4 linked regions of the Homo sapiens genome follow. The protein of the gene in region 4 purifies or fractionates together with the protein of the main gene of each other region. This does not show direct contact. Each region holds a gene or a part of one and is shown on either strand. Other genes may lie near its edges.

The links.
Region 1: the proteins of NUDCD1 (region 4) and COPB2 purify together in Homo sapiens (affinity purification with mass spectrometry; 2 studies listed by BioGRID and IntAct, with this or other methods). This does not show direct contact.
Region 2: the proteins of NUDCD1 (region 4) and DNAJC9 purify together in Homo sapiens (co-immunoprecipitation; one large-scale study listed by IntAct). This does not show direct contact.
Region 3: the proteins of NUDCD1 (region 4) and PARP12 purify together in Homo sapiens (co-immunoprecipitation; one large-scale study listed by IntAct). This does not show direct contact.

Annotation. Positions count from the first base shown.
Region 1 is NC_000003.12:139,375,446-139,380,355, reverse strand, and holds part of COPB2 (coatomer subunit beta'), read left to right. Parts: intron 1-889; coding exon 890-976; intron 977-1,182; coding exon 1,183-1,309; intron 1,310-2,166; coding exon 2,167-2,315; intron 2,316-4,741; coding exon 4,742-4,888; intron 4,889-4,910. UniProt on the Homo sapiens protein: The coatomer is a cytosolic protein complex that binds to dilysine motifs and reversibly associates with Golgi non-clathrin-coated vesicles, which further mediate biosynthetic protein transport from the ER, via the Golgi up to the trans Golgi network.
Region 2 is NC_000010.11:73,240,752-73,244,963, reverse strand, and holds the end of DNAJC9 (dnaJ homolog subfamily C member 9), read left to right. Parts: intron 1-459; exon of another isoform or gene 460-1,034; coding exon 1,035-1,121; exon of another isoform or gene 1,122-1,444; coding exon 1,445-1,564; 3' UTR 1,565-3,010; downstream 3,011-4,212. Other genes in the region: primary cilium assembly protein FAM149B1, read right to left, coding at 3,945-4,018.
Region 3 is NC_000007.14:140,034,750-140,039,659, reverse strand, and holds part of PARP12 (protein mono-ADP-ribosyltransferase PARP12), read left to right. Parts: intron 1-1,348; coding exon of another isoform or gene 1,349-1,417; exon of another isoform or gene 1,418-1,421; intron 1,422-1,698; coding exon of another isoform or gene 1,699-1,803; coding exon 1,804-1,945; intron 1,946-4,910.
Region 4 is NC_000008.11:109,288,296-109,293,205, reverse strand, and holds part of NUDCD1 (nudC domain-containing protein 1), read left to right. Parts: intron 1-3,272; coding exon 3,273-3,455; intron 3,456-4,910.

The sequences.
Region 1 (4,910 bases), on a different chromosome or scaffold from region 4:
CCTTATTCATGAGTCACTTTTATGGGTTTCAATTTCAAAAAGACTGACTAGGTGCAGTGGCTCACGCCTGTAATCCCAGCACTTGGGAGGCTGAGACGGGTGGATCACTTGAGGCCAGGAGTTCGAGACTACCCTGGCCAACATGGTGAAACCCCGTCTGTACGAAAAATACAAAAATTTGCTTGGCATGGTGGTGCACACCTGTAATCCCAGCTACTTGGGTAACTGAAGCATGAGAATCACTTGAACCTGGGAGGCGGAGGTCGCAGTGAGCCAAGATTGTGCCACTGTACTGCACTTCAGCCTGGGTGACAGAGTAAGACTGTCTCAAAAAAAAAAAAAAAAAAAAAAAGAAAAGAAAAAAAGAAACTAAGAGCTAATTCATTCAACAAATATTTATTACACACTACTTGTGTGCCAGCCACTGTTCTATCCTCTGCCTATACAGTGTGAAAAATATTCCTGCCTTTGGAGAGCTTAGCAGGAAAGATTGGCACTAAACATAATTATGAGGTGCTACATTATGAAAGGGAAGTACAAGTTTCCATGGGTGGATTTTCAAGTCAGAGACAACAAGAGCAGAGGTGAGGCTGGGAGTAGCCAAAGGTGAGGCTGGAAAAGGGAGGGAAGGGCTGGAGCACAGAGGATCTGGAATACCATCTTGTGGATATTTGCCTTCTCTTATCTTTTAAAAAGTGTTTTAATTTCGAATCTATTAAAAGATAGTTGGTCTTTTTTAAAAATTTGAATGTTGAGCTTTTATATTTTAGCCTGAGAATATACTAAAATGAGAAGTGATCTTAAAAATTGGATGTTTGAAATATAACAGAGTAGATTTTGTGGTTATTTTCTTATAGCTCAATTTGTGTATTCTTGTTACATTTTAAAGACACTGGTGAAGACATTTGAAGTATGTGATCTTCCTGTTCGAGCTGCAAAGTTTGTTGCAAGGAAGAATTGGGTTGTGACAGGAGCGGTAAGTAATTAATATGAATCTCTATTCCCATTTTCTGAATTGGTCAATGATTGTGTAAATTTGTTGCAGGATTTTGATTCCCGATTTGTTTTGTTATTTACAGCAATGTTTTGAGGCATAGACTTTATTCCTTGAGCCTGTGATATAGTTTTTTTGTATAATTTACTTGATAACAGGGATGATGGTTTTAAAATTTCTGTTTCTAGGATGACATGCAGATTAGAGTGTTCAATTACAATACTCTGGAGAGAGTTCATATGTTTGAAGCACACTCAGACTACATTCGCTGTATTGCTGTTCATCCAACCCAGCCTTTCATTCTAACTAGCAGTGGTAAGAGATGACCTTTTTTGGTCATGTGCGTCTCTTTGGGTAATTCATTTTCATTCACTGAGACATGCTATGCTTTAACTGCTGTTACAAATATAATTCTAATTCCAAGCGGCCTTTAAACTATTTAGATCCATTACTGTGCTATTGATGCTGCTTGTGTTTGTACTATAATGAAATATCAACTGTACTTAGGATTTGTGTAATGATTGCTCCAGTTCCTGTCAGAGAAGACCTACAAGTCTAGATGTTTAAACATCTGCTGAACAGAAAGGTCATTTACATGTTGATGAGTGAGTTTTTGGCAGATTGCCATAGACCCTATTCAGTTCAATCTTTATATTCAAACTAGTTTGCTCCTTGGTATTGTGTATAAATAGTAGACCTCTTGGAGGACTGGAAAAAGAGGTAGCACTGAATTAGTAATAGCTCTTTGAAATGTTTTTAAATTAAAAATTGAGAAGTAATTAAAAACTTTTTAAAAACCAATCTTGTGAGGGCAAATGCTTGTTCTCTACATAGTCATTGCTATCACTATTCAGTCATGCTTAGATCTAGTCAAACTTATATTACTCTTTGGCCATTCTTTAATGCCCACTGAATTTTTAAGTTTTTTCACAGAATTTTTATATTTTCTATTTCTAATCTATTTTATTTATTTTATCTCCACTTTTCTGTAGAGAGTTAAATTTATTTTTAAGATAAATAAGCATTTTGAAAACTCTATTTGGTTTTGATTCTATTTCTGTAAGTCATGGATTATATGGTTTGTGTTAGGTTTGCTTCTTCTAAAGACTGTGTCTTAGTTATGAAGTGAAAAAATAGAATTACAACTAACTTGAGACTTTCTTTTGGCCTAGATGACATGCTTATTAAGCTCTGGGACTGGGATAAAAAATGGTCTTGCTCACAAGTGTTTGAAGGACACACCCATTATGTTATGCAGATTGTGATCAACCCCAAAGATAACAATCAGTTTGCCAGTGCCTCTTTGGACAGGACTATCAAGGTAGGGCATCCACATTTTGTGTCAGTTATCATTATTAGTGAACTATACTTGCCTTAGGTGTTTTACTGTTGACTGGTCAGAAATGTACCCATCTTAAAAATTTTCCTCAAAAGCCTGTTTTGAAGTCAAAATAGGATTTCTCATTTTAATCCAAACGACATGTTCTGTTTAGAAAAATATTGTGGCAACTCAGTGCTCTTAATGAGGAGCGTTTTTCTGTGTGGAGGCAGCATGTTATAAAAATTTTTTAGCCTTTGGAAACCCAGAATAAGAAAAATGCCAATATCTTTTTAGGATACTACTGTCCTCTCCTTTTAGTATTCATTGTTGACTTCTGCTCATCGTTTATCTATTTTACATTTAAATTCCATATGCCTCTATTCTCTCTTTCTTACTCCATTTTACCACACTGCTGTCTGTTATCTTTCTGAAACAGTTCCTGATCTAAGGATAAAGTCCAAATGCCTTAGTGTGGAATACAAGGATTTCCAGGACTAGCCTGGGCTAATATTATGCGACATCTCCTAAAACCCTGGTCTACTCACCATCCTCTAGAGAGGCTATGAATGTTCACAAAACCTTACTTCATTGAACTGTTCCATCTTCCTGCACTTCTCTTTATTTTCCTATTTTGATATATTTTCCTCCGGAGAATTACTCAGCTTTTAAGGTTTAGCACAAATATTTACTCTTGAGAACCTCTTGTCAGACATCAACTTCACCTCTAGACAGAGCCAGTTATGCTTATCCCATTTCTTCCATTGCTTTTTGCCTCTGTTTCAGCCTTTCTCAGATTGAATTATTATTACACGTTTTTGGAAATCTTTATCCCCTGAAATACTGGATTTGGGGGATAGAAACTGTGTCACTCCCTTTCCCCAGCCATTCAATAGCAAACAGCAAAGTGCCTTACCTGACCTAGATGCTTAATACATGTTGCAGTGAGGGCAATCATGCTTCTTTTTTTTATCATAATATTTAAAATATTTCCATGCCAGGCACGGTGGCTCACGCCTGTAATCCCAGCACTTTGGGAGACCGAGGCAGGTGGATCACAAGGTCAGGAGATCGAGACCATCCTGGCTAACACGGTGAAACCCCGTCTCTACTAAAAATACAAAAAATTAGCTGGGTGTGGTGGCAGGCGCCTGTAGCCCCATCTACTCGGGAGGCTGAGGCAGGAGAATGGCATGAACCTGGGAGGCAGAGCTTGCAGTGAGCCGAGATTGCGCCACTGCGCTCCAACTTGGGGGACAGAGCGAGACTCCATCTCAAATAAATAAATAAATTAATTAATTAATTAAAATATTTCCATATGCATTGACTTAAAATAAATTAACTTTTGCTTACATGTTTGCTTTCACCTATATAAAACACTGTTAGTAGTTTTCCTTTATGTAAAATGTTATGTGTCTGAATATCTTAGGGTTTTAACCTTAGCTATTTTGCCTTTGATTGGATTATCCTTGCTTTTGACATAGATTAACTTTGAAATTAGTTGTAAACTTTTATTTTTACTAATTTAGGTTTATCTTGAGAACAATAATTGTCTTATCTTCAGTTCCAATAAAGTTTATTTTATACAGTAATTGATAAACATTTGTTACACGTTTATACTCCCCACAGGGCCTCCCATATAATAGGCACTCAATAAATATTTGTAAAGATAAAGCTTAATTCTGTGCTGTGGTAATTTTTAACAATTTTCTACACTTTAAATTGGTAATTAGGCAGTAATTTTCTCCTTTTAATAGGCCTTTATTTTTATTTATTTATTTATGTATTTTTGAGTTACGGTCTGTGTTGCCTAGGCTGGAGTGCAGTGGCATGATCACAGCTCACTGTAACCTCAAACTTCTGGGCTAAAGCGATCCTCCTGCCTCAGCCTCCTGAGTTGTTAGGACTACATGCGTGTGCCTTCATGCCCAGCTAATTTTTTACTTTTTACTTTTTTGTAGAGACAAGGTCTTGCTGTGTTGTCCAGGTTGGTCTTGAGCTCTTGGGCTCAAGTGATAACTTCCATCTCGGCCTCCTAAAGTGCTGGGATTACAGGTGTGAGCCACCACACCCAGCAACTTTTAATATATCTTACTAAATCTACTTTCATGAGCTGTATATTAAATCTATAATAAAATAATTTCATAACATCTAGATTCCTGGGCGTCACTGTGGATTGACTGACTTATAATCTCTAGAGATAAAGCCTGGAAATTGGCACTTCTTTTAAAGAACGCCATAGTGATTTTGCTCCCTGAAAATTCAAGTAAAATGAGAAAGAACAAAAACCAAACAGGATAAAAAATAAAATTTGATAGCTCTTCTCTCCTGGGCTTTGGCATTTTACATAATGTGTCAGAAATATGGTGGATTTGCCTTTTGTAAAGCAAGGCCCCATATTGACTGGCCGATGCTGTTTCTCTCTGCAGGTGTGGCAGTTGGGCTCTTCGTCACCAAACTTCACTTTGGAAGGACATGAGAAAGGCGTGAATTGCATTGATTACTACAGTGGTGGGGACAAGCCATACCTCATTTCAGGTGCAGATGACCGTCTTGTTAAAATATGGGATTATCAGGTACAGTTTTTCATAACCTTAC
Region 2 (4,212 bases), on a different chromosome or scaffold from region 4:
TGAGGAGAAAATGGCATAGTTTTGATAGACTGTTCAACAAACCTTAGGGGGATGCTGAATTTAAAGAGAGAATTTGAATACAAGGAAACGGTGTCTTATTGGGATAGGGGGTCCTAATGTATCATCATCCTCAGTATTAATAGCATTAATTGCTACTTAGAAAATTCACAAGGGGTGTTGGGGCCTCTTATAGTTGTTGCCCTAAGGTGTTCTTGTGATATTTTGTAAACAATGCTCTAGGAACACTTGGCAAAGGAAGGCTGCTTTGAAATTAGGTAAATAGATGTTAAAACTGAGTTTATTGATGTTGGTTCTTCTGACTACTGGGGAGAAGTCATTTTAAACTGGGGTTGTTCACAAGGCACCACCAGTCCCATGGAGTAAATTGGGTTTCCAGGAGAGAAATTGGAAATACCTGTATCCTGGCAATTGCATCATTTGCCTTTTTTTTTTTTTTTTCTCTTTTTTCTAAGAGATGGCATCTCCATCACCCAGGCTGGAGTGCAGAGGCATGATCACAGCTTATTGCAGCCTGAACTCTCAGACTGAAGCCATCTTCCCACCTCAGCCTCCCTAGTAGCTGGGACTACAAGCACATGCCACCACACCAGGCTCATTTCTTTTCTTTTTTATAGAACTGAGGTCTCACTATGTTACCCAGGCAGGTCTTGAACTCCTGAGTTCAAGTGATCCTCCCACCTTGGCCTCCCAAGGTATGGGGATTACAGTTGTGAGCCACCATACCCGGCCTCATGTTCCTTTTTATCATCATGTGATTTATGAGTGCCAGAGTACTTACTACCTCTAGCAAATAGAATTGGGTAAAAAACAAATGGTAATTGGAATCAGAGGATCTACTGCTTGCTGTCAGCATTGTTGCCATTTAATGAATGACATAGTTATGTAATTCGATTCATTTTGTCTATTCATATATTCATAAAATTGAAACAGAATTATAGATTTGCTTTTGGGAAAGAGTATGTATTTTAAGCATTTCCTGGTGGCCCTGAGTCTCATGTGAGTTCCTGTTTCAGGCTCAGGAAGAGGCCAAAGAAGCAGAAATGAGCAGAAAGGAGTTGGGGCTTGATGAAGGCGTGGATAGCCTGAAGGCAGCCATTCAGGTAAACTTGGCAGTTTGTTGCCACATCTTTAATGATCTGATTCCTACTGCTAATATTTTCTTTGGAATGTTGTATTTTGTTTTCTTCTTTTAAGACATAACCGCATACCTTCTATTTGTCCTTTTAAAGTGTACAATTTGGTGGTTTTAAGTGTATTTACAAAGTTTTACAATTATTAACACCAATTGTAGGACATTTTCACCATTCCAAAAAAACTCCATACCCATTAGTAGTTATTCCACTTTTCCAGCCCCTGGCAACCACTAGGTACTTTCTGTCTATGGATAATGTTGTGAAAGCTTGTGTTTTAACTTCTCAAACAGAGCAGACAAAAGGATCGGCAAAAGGAAATGGACAATTTTCTGGCTCAGATGGAAGCAAAGTACTGCAAATCTTCCAAAGGAGGAGGGAAAAAATCTGCTCTCAAGAAAGAAAAGAAATAATGGAATTTTTCTCTTCAAAGGTCCTTAGGTGTAAATTGATGCCATCGTAGGCAAGGTGCAGGCAGGATTTGAAGGCAAAAGTCAATTCAGCTCTTGAGAAAAGGTGTCTTTCCAGCCTGAATTTTTCAGATTGACTAGACCAAGCAGAATCTCTCAACCTGATCTTAGTATTTCCTAGAAAGCACTTGACATTGTGTGAGGTCTCACCTGAAGGAACTTGGTGGTGACATTTGGGAGGGTGGAGGGAGGCAGTGTCCTTCCTGACAGCACTTGCCTCCATGGATCTTCTGTACACAGAACTCTTATCTAGGATGTGGTTCTGTTCATGCTGCTTTCTGCGATGTGCGTGTCTGTTAGAATAGGCTCTCTACCCAGCTAGAACACCTTCCAGACACTTGCTGGACAGCTATCTTCCACATACTTCCCAGTTTACATTTGGTCTTAATGATCTTGAATAGATCCTCTCTTCATTTTACTCAGCCAGGTTTTGTACTGATGTACAGGTGTTAAATTACTTCAAGCATTTTTGTAAGAGGTGTATATAATTCAATAAAAAAGGTAAAACATGATGATTAAGTTCTGGGGGCTTTGTAAATGATCCCACTAAAATGTGACCTAGGAAAAATATGAATGGTGTTTAGGATGAGAGAAAAGGGGAAAACAATAGCCCTGGTCAGCTTTATAATAGAGAGCCTGGTTTCCCTAGCATGAAGAGATGTATGTTGTAGTCCTGCCACTGATTACTGAAGTCCTGCCATTAATTGCTGAATGTCTTCAGTTGGGCCACTGAGCTTGTCTGAATCTGTTCCCTTTTATAAAAGAGTTACTACATCAAAACAAAGAGTGAAATCCAAATTTGTCAAACTGTATGTATTAAACATGTCCAGTTTTTTGGTTAAAAAAAAATTGCACTGGCTTTGAGGGAAAACACACAGGGTGAGGGAATTGGGCTAAATGACTTCTTACAGGCCCCTTTCTGATTCTTTAACTTTGAAAGGCAAGCCATATTGATCCAGTTGTTATAGTGAACTCATGGTAATGGTTTGTGAGAACAATAGAGATTTTCATTTCTATGTAGATGAGTTGGTATGAGAATATATGGAATTTTTAAGGGACTGTTTAAATCTTTGATTTGTAGACTATTAAATATACCGTATGCATAAAGTAAGCCTTTAGCTCTAAGGTAAAGACGACACGTTTTCGGTTTGTGACTACAAATAGGTTAAAAATAGATTTTAATTTTATTAAAAATATAATTTAATGCAGGTTGTTTGAAGCATCTGTCTTCATATGATGGCATTAGAACACCTTGGTATAATAAAAAGTTACCGTAATTTATGATTATTTGAATTTATCCATTCTGAAAATTAATAAGATCTAAAACTGGCATGACAATCAAGATTTGTATTTAGTGAAATTTAAAATAAATGTAAGCCATAGTTAAAACTGTTGCTGCATTCATGAATGCCCTTAGGAAAAGGTCCACAGTAAAATCAGAAAGCTGAACCTCTCCTGCTGTTTATAGGATATGTTTATGCTGAATTAATTGCCAGGGTTTCTTAAACTTTTAGGGAATTATACTTTGGTGGCTCAATAGTAGATTCTACAAATTATTTTTAAATTGATTTCCTTTCCTTAGAGCTGCAGGAGAATATCTGGCAAGGTGCATTTAATATTTGGAAAAAAGATATGACCAGTAACCTACTTTAGGAAGAAAATAAGCATCACCTGGCATCAGGTAGGCATCGTAAGGTTGAGCTGTCCTATCTGAAAAAATATGCGATATAATTTATTACAGAAGTTACTTTATACTAATGCTTAACATTTATGTTTTTAGTTACACACCCCTTCCATTTTAATCTGCTGATAGGGTAGGACATCTAAAGAGAGTTTTAGGAATGACATCTATTTGATGAGGTCAGATTTTCAACAGCAAAATGACTTAAAACTGAGTACAACTCTCCAGAAATGAACACAGGCTGAAGTATTCTGAAGCCAGTGATATTGTCACTGATGATTTGCTGCTTTTTGTGTATGTGTGAGCTCATCAAATCCTATATGATTGAACTGATCATTGTTAAGAGATAACATGAGCAGTGATTTGGGTATTATTCACTGTTGCATCTTTGGGTACAAACTTGCCTTTCCAATGGGATAGGTTAATTTCTGCTGAAAGAGACAGTAACTGGAGATAGAAACAACACTCATGTCATTTTTGGCTGCTATGGTGTTTTGTTCTTCGGTCACTTGTGCCAAAATCACTCTTCATGAAGATGATTTCTAGTCGATCTTCTATACAAGCTCTGCATCACTTGATGACTGAATACTGCTTCATGAAATCTCGTGTTTCCTGCAGCCTGATAGATTCTTCTCATTTGCCTTATGGTCCCTGCCTGGTTCGAGAGACTGGTCTGCCTCCGCTTTGAGATTTTGTAGACCCATGTAACTGAGGACCTGTCAGATGACATAGAGTAACATTAGTAGACAGTCTAGGTTTGATAATCACTCTCAAGTTTATAGCTAAGGGCTTTTTTGCTCCAATTATGAATTGGACTTTCTTAAGGTATGAAAGCAGTAAACTAGTTTTGTAGAAGAGCCCACTAATTAAAAAGAAGCAAGATGTCTGATTTACTCACTTCCACTTCAGT
Region 3 (4,910 bases), on a different chromosome or scaffold from region 4:
GAAAAGCTAAGTTTTTTCTGTCTGAGCTCAAGAAGTACTCCAACATTTCATGTCAAAATCAGACACCTGCTGGTCCTGCCACAGGACATGTGGGAATCTGTCATTCCTTCCACATCTCACTTGGTGCCTCCAGGTGCTAAACCGAGACCTTTCTCAGCTTAACACATAATATGGCTGCCATTGTTGGTTTCTCCTTCCAAACCTCCCACTGAGGGCAAAAAAACTCTTTGCTTTTTGCTTTCTGCTCATCCACCTGCATCTTCCCTCCCTCTGTGACCATCCATCTGCAGGGATTTTGACTGGAGGCCTGGGTCGGGGCAGGACGCCTGCATCTGACTGCTGCTTCTCCTCTCTGTTTCCCTGACTCAGAGCTTCATTTCCTCAGGCCCAAAGGGGAGGGATTGTTTTCTTTTCCTTTCCTCTTGTTGTCAGAAAGGGATTTTTATGCCACATCCTCTTCCTCCCGGACTCTAGTCTAATGGCTTGGTTTTGAAGGAAGACAGACTTCAGAGAGAGAAACTTAGGCGCCGCTATGAGACCGTAAACTAGGAGGCTGCTTTACAAACCATTATACCTCTTACACCCGCCCCTTATGGTCCTCATGGGGCCAACTCATGTCATCCCTCGGGCTTGGGCCTTGGCTCAGGCATCTTTTTCTTCCAAGAAACCTTTGCTGGGTCTCACCCTTCCTTGGTCATTCTTAGTTACCCATCTCAGCGTCTAGAGCACCCGTGAGACCTGTGTGGGACCTTGTGCTTGAGGCTTTGAAATATCTGGGTACTTTTTTTTCCCCTTCTCCATTGCTGGACTCAGTTGCGCAGAGGCATGGGTGACTCTTGTCTTGTCTCACTTTTGTTCTGTTAGTAACACCTAAAGCTTGTGACCCAGGAGAACTAGGATGGTAGCAGTAGGGGGAGCAGGAAAATTGACAGGGACAGAGGGAGTTAGTTGGTTATAGGTTGAATAACTTTAATTTTAGTTGTCAGTGTAATCTCAAATTTAATAAGAACGGTGATGATAATAGTAACATTTATTGAGTATGTTTTGTTCTGGGCACTGTACTAAGTGCTCCACATGCCTTATTTAAATGATTTCTCCAGCCCTGTGAGGACAATATAGTCCTGTTGTATAAAGGGATGAATATGGCCTAAGTACTATTATTCATATTATAAGCTTGAGATAACGGAGGCTCAGGGAGGTTAAGATAACTTGCCAAAGTTATAGAGCCAGCAGGTTTGGGAGCCAGAATTCAAACTCACTCCAGCTGAAGCTACGAGATTTCCTGTAGGTAATTGTGGAAGGATAGGGATTGAAATGGATAATTTAAAAAATAGATGAATGCTCCTAGGGACCAGAAAAAGAAAACCGCAAGGAAGAGGACCGAGCTCTGATTAAAGGATGGTTGCAACGTGAATAGACGGGTAAGACCAGCCTGGCTTGGGCTGCCCAGTCAAGCAGCACTCCAGAAGTCGCTGTTGCTGTTCTGCCGGCATTTGAATGGCTGCCGTGTCCTCTGTCCTAGGTGACTTGAGTGCCCTCCTCTCCGTTGCTCCCATCCCTGTCTTCCTGCTCAGCAGGACCCATATTTACTGCATTGTGTTTGCTAGGGCAGCTTCAGGAGACAGTCATGTTGCCTCCATTCTGTGCCTCTCTCTCCTGCCATACCATGCTCCCTGGCCTCCATCTTCCCCACCACAGGACTGTCCACCAGGAGCACCTCTGAAATGTGGCGTGGGTGCCACCAGCGTTTTTCCTCATCACGCAGTTTCTTGCCTTCATAAAGTGTCTGGCTTTCCATCGCAGGGCACGGTGCACCCTGTGACCACTGTCAGCAGTAGCGACGTGGAGAAGGCCTACCTGGCCTACTGTACACCGGGGTCTGACGGCCAGGCAGCCACCTTGAAGTTCCAGGCCGGAAAGCACAACTACGAGTTAGATTTCAAAGGTATCCTGTGCCCTGCCCTCGCCCAGCAGAGCCTGCCTGTGTTGGCTCTGTCCCTACACCTTAACCCTGGAGGAGCCGTGTGCACATACTGAGGGCCTGGGTGGGTACAGGAAAGAAAAGCAAGGTACCAGGTCCAAGGTAGACCTGGAGACAGATGACACTGGCCCTGTGCAGTGGAGGAAGAACTGCATCAAGGATGTGAGGAGAATGGACCCCAGGAGGGGCAGGAGCCCCAAGTGTGGAGGACAAGCAGGGTCAGCATGCATGTAGCATGGTTGTCCTGCTGTATCCGAGGACTAACCTGAGTCCCTGACAGGTGTCCGAGCAGCTCCGTCGTGCAGTGTCTGCCTTTCACTCCCTGCTGCAGCAGTGCTGCTGTCATCTTTTTTTTGAGACGGAGTCTCGCTCTGTCACCCAGGCTGGAGTGCAATGGCGTGATCTTGGCTCACTGCAACCTCCGCCTCCCGGGTTCAAGTGATTCTCGTGCTTCAGCCTCCCAAGTAGCTGGAATTACAGTCATGAGCCGTCACACCTGGCTAATTTTTTGTATTTTTCATAGAGACGGGGTTTCATCATGTTGGCCAGACTGGTCTTGAATTCCTGTCCTCAAGCGTTCTACCCACCTTGGCCTCCCAGTTTGCTGGGATTTCAGGCATGAGCCACCGCGCCTGGCCTGCTGCCATCTTTTCTGTAGGCGACTTTGGAGTTGATGGGTTTAACGGATGGTAGGACACAGAGTAATTGAAAGTCCCTGAGAAGCAGATTTTCGTGCACTCATGGTGTCCTGAGGCTGGGGCTGAAATGTTTCATCCTGGTTGCCTTACAGAGAGAAATAGGCCACCCTTTGGCCAGTTCCTCCAAGTGGCTGATGTGTGAGAATTTTTTTTTTTTTAAGTTTTAATTTTGTGTAGTTTCTCTTAAGCCATTTCCTCATGAGTGTATCGGTCCAGCTTTATTCAGTTCCGTTTTGCCTGTATTTCACATTTTAAACTCTGAGTCCTTCTGAATGTTCAGCATTTTATAAGGGAGTAAGTGGGCCTTCCTTTAAACACAGTTTATGGTTTTCTTTATTTTTGCAGACGTTTATTCTATGTGGAGTATAGTGAAGTGTCTGGTGAATTATCCTAAAACCACTTTGGCTGTCTGTTTCTGGCCTTGGTTTTGCTTGTGGTTTCGTGGCACTTGTGGTTTTGCTTAGGGTAGATCACTACCCCCTTGACATGCCCTTTACGGTGAAGTTTTTCTCCTCTAGAGTGCGAACTGCCTCTGCTGGAGAGCGCCAGCCACGTGTGGTCTGGTTTGCTTTCCACGGCCTGACACACACCAGTGCATGAGAGGGGACCAGTGAGAGCATAGACGTTAATCAAATCAGGACTGCCCTGAAGGTCAGGACTGTGTGGCAAGCATACATCTGACTGCTGCTGACAGCAATCTGGAATATTTCTTTTAAATATCTGGAAAATATCAAAACAGATAGAAATGTCAGATACTACCTTGATCATTCCCAACCTAGGCCACACCCTGGGGACATAACAGAACCTCATAATAGGGATGGGGAAGAGCACACACGTGCAGTTTATGATTCCTGCAGACTGACCGAAGCCCATTTGAGTGGGCACAATTCTTCTCCTTCTCCTCCTTCTCCTCCTTCTCCTCCTTCTCCTCCTTCTCCTCCTTCTCCTCCTTCTCCTCCTTCTCCTCCTTCTCCTCCTTCTCCTCCTCCTCCTCCTCCTCCTCCTCCTCGTCCTCCTCCTCCTCCTCGTCCTCCTCCTCCTCCTCCTCCTCCTTGTCCTCCTCCTTGTCCTCCTCCTCGTCCTCCTCCTCTTCCTCTTCCTCCTCCTCTTCCTCTTCCCCCTCCTCCTCCTCTTCCTCCTCCTTCTTTTGGTAGATACCAGTATCCATAAAAGAAGCTTGAGATGAATTGGCTTCTTCCCCCACAACTTCACTTCTAAGTATAAAGCAAGTCTCAAAGCAAACTGCCACACATATTTATTAGCTGTTTATTAGGAAGCAAGTACATTTAAAACACACAAAAGAGCCCAAATGAGTTGTTCTGAAGGTTTAGGGATGATTCAGTTCTGCCCTTTTAGGGACTCTTGTCATAAATGATTCACTCAAGGCAAATGCCAGGATTCCAGAGGCAGAATTCTAGCATCCTGTTAGGTGGTGTCTGACGGGGCAGAATTCCCCAAAGACAGGCTGTAGCCTAGGGTATCCTCTGGAAGGGTAAATTAGGGAAAAGACCTCACTTTACTGTGTCCATAGAAGGGTAGGGAATGTGTCTGACACACATTTAGCCAGTCCACGTATCTTAGCTCACTTTTAATTTCACCAGTGAAAGCCATTTAAGATTCATCACAGATGGCCAGTAGGCCAGTAACACCCATTTAAATATGCCAGTGAGAATGGTCTTGATGGGCGGCTGAGTAGTGGGTAACAGAAGGGGTCATGGTTGCTGCATCTGGATCATGGGCTCTGAATGAGAATGTGGATGGACCTCCAGGAATAGTGACCATCTCAGCTGCAACCTAAGAGACACACACTTGGATAACCATCCAGTTTATGCTCAACTGCAATAAGGCTAATTCTGGACACCTATAATTTTTAATATTAAAATGTTTTGTAAATGAAAACAAAATTAGTTGGGCATGGTGTCACAAACCTGTAGTCCCAGCTACTTGGGAGGCTGAGGTGGGAGGATTACTTGAGCTGGTGAGTTCAAGGTCCACTTGAGCAACAAAGCAAAAGACCCCATCTCTTAAAAAAAATGTAAGACTTGAGAGGGTTTTCCTGGCAGGCAAGGACAGAACAAACACTGCTAGGTATTTGTCATTTTTCAACTTGAGGGGCCAGTTCCCCCAACCCCAAATCCTCAGGATGAGTATGGGATTCTTGAGGGTGGGGAAGCAAGAAATTTGTTTATTAAAGATATTATTGGTTTAGAAAGGTTGATGAATACTGCCAT
Region 4 (4,910 bases):
ATGAATATGTATAGATAGTTTTTCCTCAGGTATATTTTATAGAAAAAAATTGCAGTGTGCATCCACAGCCAATTATGCCTTTTATATAAAAGAAGACATTGTTATATAAGTTTTGAATAATTTAACGGGTATATTTTTAATATATACAAAAATATATGCATATATATGTGTGATACACAGAAACATATACCTAAAACTAAATGTAAATTAATACATTATAGTATAATTTAAATGTAAATAAATATAAATACTTACTTGGAAATGAATGTCTTTATTTCATTAAAGTACAGGTATGATTTCTTTTAAATCTAATTGAACTTCATTATTTGTTTCTACATTTAGGAAAACTGTTACTTTTTCTTACCTGATGTGCTCCCATGTTTAGAATAGTCCTGAACTTTGGTCTGTTTGAAGCTGTCTGTCAAGCTTCTAACTTGACATTAAAAATTACAATCTCATGAATTAATTAGGATTTCTTTAAGGTATTAAGAAATCTCTTTGCCTTTGCTTAGTTCCTGCTGACTCATTGAGTGTTTTCTTTTTAACTGTAGTTGAGTACTGAGAGTGCTTGTTTCCATAATGACTCTATGCTCTTTTTCTCAGTAGTTTTTATTAGCTGACTCATTTATGAGTAAGTTAATATAAATTAAATTATCATTCATCTCTGTAGAAAAATATTTCTTTACCATAGCTGCTAGTTTGCAATTCAGTAAAGACTGTTAGTATTTGTTTCCTAAGAGGGTTTTGCCTTTTATTCTAAAACAGCTATCTGTCTATCTAATAGATATCTCAAAATTGTTTATAAATAAACTGAATAAGTCTCCTAGATTTGTTCTTTGAAGTATTCAATATAATTTATTAGTTCTTTTTGGTGTTGTAGTTTTATCTCTGGAGGAACACAGTAACTTTAAACTTTAATTAGATATTAGAAAACTTTTTTGAAATCCCAGTTGGTAACCATAAGATCTATGTCACAGCTATCCGAGTATGCCAACACAGTACAAAAGCATCCATAGACAATATATAAATGAATGAGTATAGTTGTGTTCCAATCATACTTTATGGACATAGGAATTTGAATTTTATGTTTTTTTGACATATATTTAAATATTATTCTTTAAATATTACTATTTTAACAATTTAAAAATATAAAATTCATGCTTAGCTCACAGGCCATACAAAAATAGGCCTAGATTCAGCTTTGGCTCAAGGGTCCTAGTTTGCAGAACCCCTGCTTTAGATAATGGAAGCCTTAATTTTTTTAAGGTACGTAATTCAAAATCTTACAGGAGACATTGTCATGCATATTCCTCCTCCTTTCTCCAAGACACTTGGTTCTGTAACATCTTTTTCTCAATCTGTGGTAACTCATCAAATTGCCTCAGAACATAGCAGTACTCTGCTCCAGCTCTACTTCTCCATCCCGTTTGTCTTCGTTTCTTTGCCTCAGCTGGACAAATACATTGAGACTAACCTTTTTTCTCCCAAGATTGTAGTTATAGAATCATTAATTCTCTTTATTGTTCCCTTTATCTTTCTTTTATATCTTGTTCCTTCTCTCCCAGACTACTACTAATATGATTGGTTTTTTTCTTCTTTTTCTTTTTAGTTAACAGAACAGTATTTTCGTAAACTATTTTGAATGAAACATTTCATAAAGTATATTTATGGTCAGATAAGTTTGAAAATGTGGACATAAAATAGCTCCATTACACATTAAGCATATTAAAGTTTCTAAAAATTGTGAGTAAAAAAAGTTTAGGTTAGATGCAAAGGCTCATGCCTGTAATCTCAGCACTTTGGGAGGTCAAAGCAGGAGGATCACTTGAGCCCAGGAGTTTGAGACCAGTCTGGGCAACATAGTGAGCCACCGTCTCTACAAAAATTACAGAAACATTAGCTCGGCATGGTGTTGTGCACCTATAGTTCCAGCTATTCAGGAGGATTGCTTGAGCCTGGGAGTTTGAGGCTACAGTGAGCAGTGATCGTGCCACTGCATTTAGCTTGGGCAACAGGGTAAGACCCTGTCTCAAACAAACAAAAAACAATTTACATTTAATTTTAACCTAGCATTTCTCCACATATTTAACCACGGAATCCGGTTTTTGAGGCTTCCTATTCTTTTCTGTCCCATGCATGCTGGGAAAGGCCACGCTATAAATATGTGATGTCGGTGTTTGGATCTTTAAAGTCAAGTAGGACTTTTGGCCCTGCATGTATCTATAGGGGAAGTGTAGGAGTTTTGTTCATTCATTAAATTACAAGCCTGTTCTTAAATATGTGTGAACTGAATGTGTGAATGTAGGTGAGGATTTTGAGTAAAAACAATGAGATATTTTAGAACAGATGGTATTATTATGTAAAAACTCATAATAATATGACATTAAGTTGTGATTTTCGACTACTCAGTATGAAGCCTACAAGTATAACCCACTTAAAGAGTAACAGTATAGGTAAAAGTATGGAGTCAGCTAAAATGTTTGAGTACTTTTTAAAGCAAAAAATTACTGTCTTTATAGGAAAATAAGTTTAATTTGTCAGAAACTTTTGGAATACAGTTAATTGTTTATATCTTAAAAGTAGCACTAATTTATGTTTAATTATAAGCATATAGATAAATGTCTTGTGTAAAAAAAATCATTTCTGCTATAAATTTATTTCATTGTTAAAATGCCCCTTATCGGGAGTTAGAGCAGGCAGAAAAATAGACCACACTGCATGTTTCCCCTTGTCCTCAATTTGTCACTTTTCAGAAGAAACTTATCACATACCTGCTGAGAAGGCAGACAGGCTTTAGTCAAGGAGAGGTAGGTCATACAGAAGCTGTTATTCCAAGTAAGCCGGTCATGTTGGAGTTCTGGGGTACTGCTGTCTAATAAGAGATTTCTCCAAGATGGACATGTTTTATATGTGTACCATTCACTGCAGTAGCTACTAGCCATGTGTGGCTATTGAGCAATTAAAATGTGGCTAGTATGACTGAGGAATTTAAATTTTACTTAATTTTAAGTAGATACTTCTGGCCAGTGACTACCACATTGGACAGGACAATCGGGAACAAATTTCACCAGACCCAATATTTTAAAATAGGGACTTATTTACGGAAAATTAGATTGTAAATTGTTTATCCTTATGAAAAGACTCTTAATAGTGTACCTTTTAATAATACATTCAAATTATTTAATTATAATTAAAATCAATTTTTAAATATCAGAATATTTTGATAATAGTTTTTATTTGTAATGTTTTGTTCTGAAATACTTTTCTTACAGATAATAAAAAATATGAAATTATTAAGCGTGATATTCTCCGTGGAAAGTCAGTGCCACATTATGCTGCTATTGAGCCTGATGGAAATGGTCTAATGATTGTATCCTACAAGTCTTTAACATTTGTTCAGGCTGGTCAAGATCTTGAAGAAAATATGGATGAAGACATATCAGAGAAAATCAAAGGTAATTTTTATTCTTAATAGAGCTTATTGGTATTTTCATAAACATATATTTATGTCTTTTATTTTCCCAGTTAGGTTAATAGTTCTACAAGGGCAAGATAGATGCATAATTTTTTCTTTATTTTCTCATGTATTTTCCAGAAGTCTTTTATAAGGTATACCACCTTAATAGTGTGAATGAACTGGTTTAATTTGATCATTTTGTTATTACCAAAAATGTTTTTTTAAAAAATCGTTTATTAGCTTCCTTGATTAGGTGCTTAATAAATAGTTATCAAATAAATGTCTATTTGCTATTAGTATTGATGGTATTAATAGTGTAATATTGAAGATACTAATTTTTAAAAATAAGTTAAGCTAATGTACCTGTTCTTACCTTTTATACTAAACTGAAAGTAAGTTCCTTGAGGGCAGAATCACATAATTTTATTAATGTTGAATGAATGAATGAAGGTTATGTTTTAGCATGAAAAGACTGGCCAGGCACGGCAGCTCACGCCTGTAATCCCAGCACTTTGGGAGGCCTAGGTGGGCGGATCAAAAGGTCAGGAGATCGAGACCATCCTGGCTGACACGATGAAACCCCGTCTCTACTAAAAATACAAAAAAAAATCCGGATGTGGTGGTGGGTGCCTGTAGTGCCAGCTACTTGGGAGGCTGAGGCAGGAGAATCACTTGAACCCAGGAGGCAGAGGTTGTTGTGAGCCAGGATTGTGCCACTGCACTCCAGCTTGGGCAACAGCGAGACTGTCTCAAAAAAAAAAAAAGAAAAGACTAACAAGAAATTTCAGAAGAAATTTATATTTGTATATAAAGAACAGACATTCTTTTAAAGCTGTTCAAGAGAACATTCCTCTGTAATAATTACTGTTCATATTTCTGATGTTCATAGCCAGAGAATAGTATATTTTATTTAACAGAGATTTTTATAATATTTAACAATTCTACATATTATTCTTTGAATCTCCCTTTTTTGTTAAACAAGTTATTTTAAAAAATTAGTTTTACCTTTTTGTTTTTAAGTGAAAACACGTTGATTAAGAAAGTAAAGAAATAAAAGAATGGCTACTCCATAAGCAGAGCAACCTAGGTTTACTATTTTTGGATGCTTTAAGAAATGAATATTAATGTAATATATAATTGAAAAATATTTTCCACAGGTTTATAAATATATGCACCTCTGAATACAAAAAGTTGTGCTTAGTAGGCCTTTTCTTTAGACTTTTAATACCTTGGTTTTCTCATGTGGGATTCGTTTTTTGTTAGATTATCTCTAAGATCCTTTCCTGAATAAATGTTACTATTCTGTCTAATTATAATGCTAACCTCATCCAAAGCTTAGCCAGAATAGCTGTTTATTTCTCTAGATCATGTGTCTTTAGAATTCCTTTGGTAAGCAATCTCGAGGGAATAGAAAGCTTGCCTTAATCTTTGGAACCGTTCTGCCCAGATAACT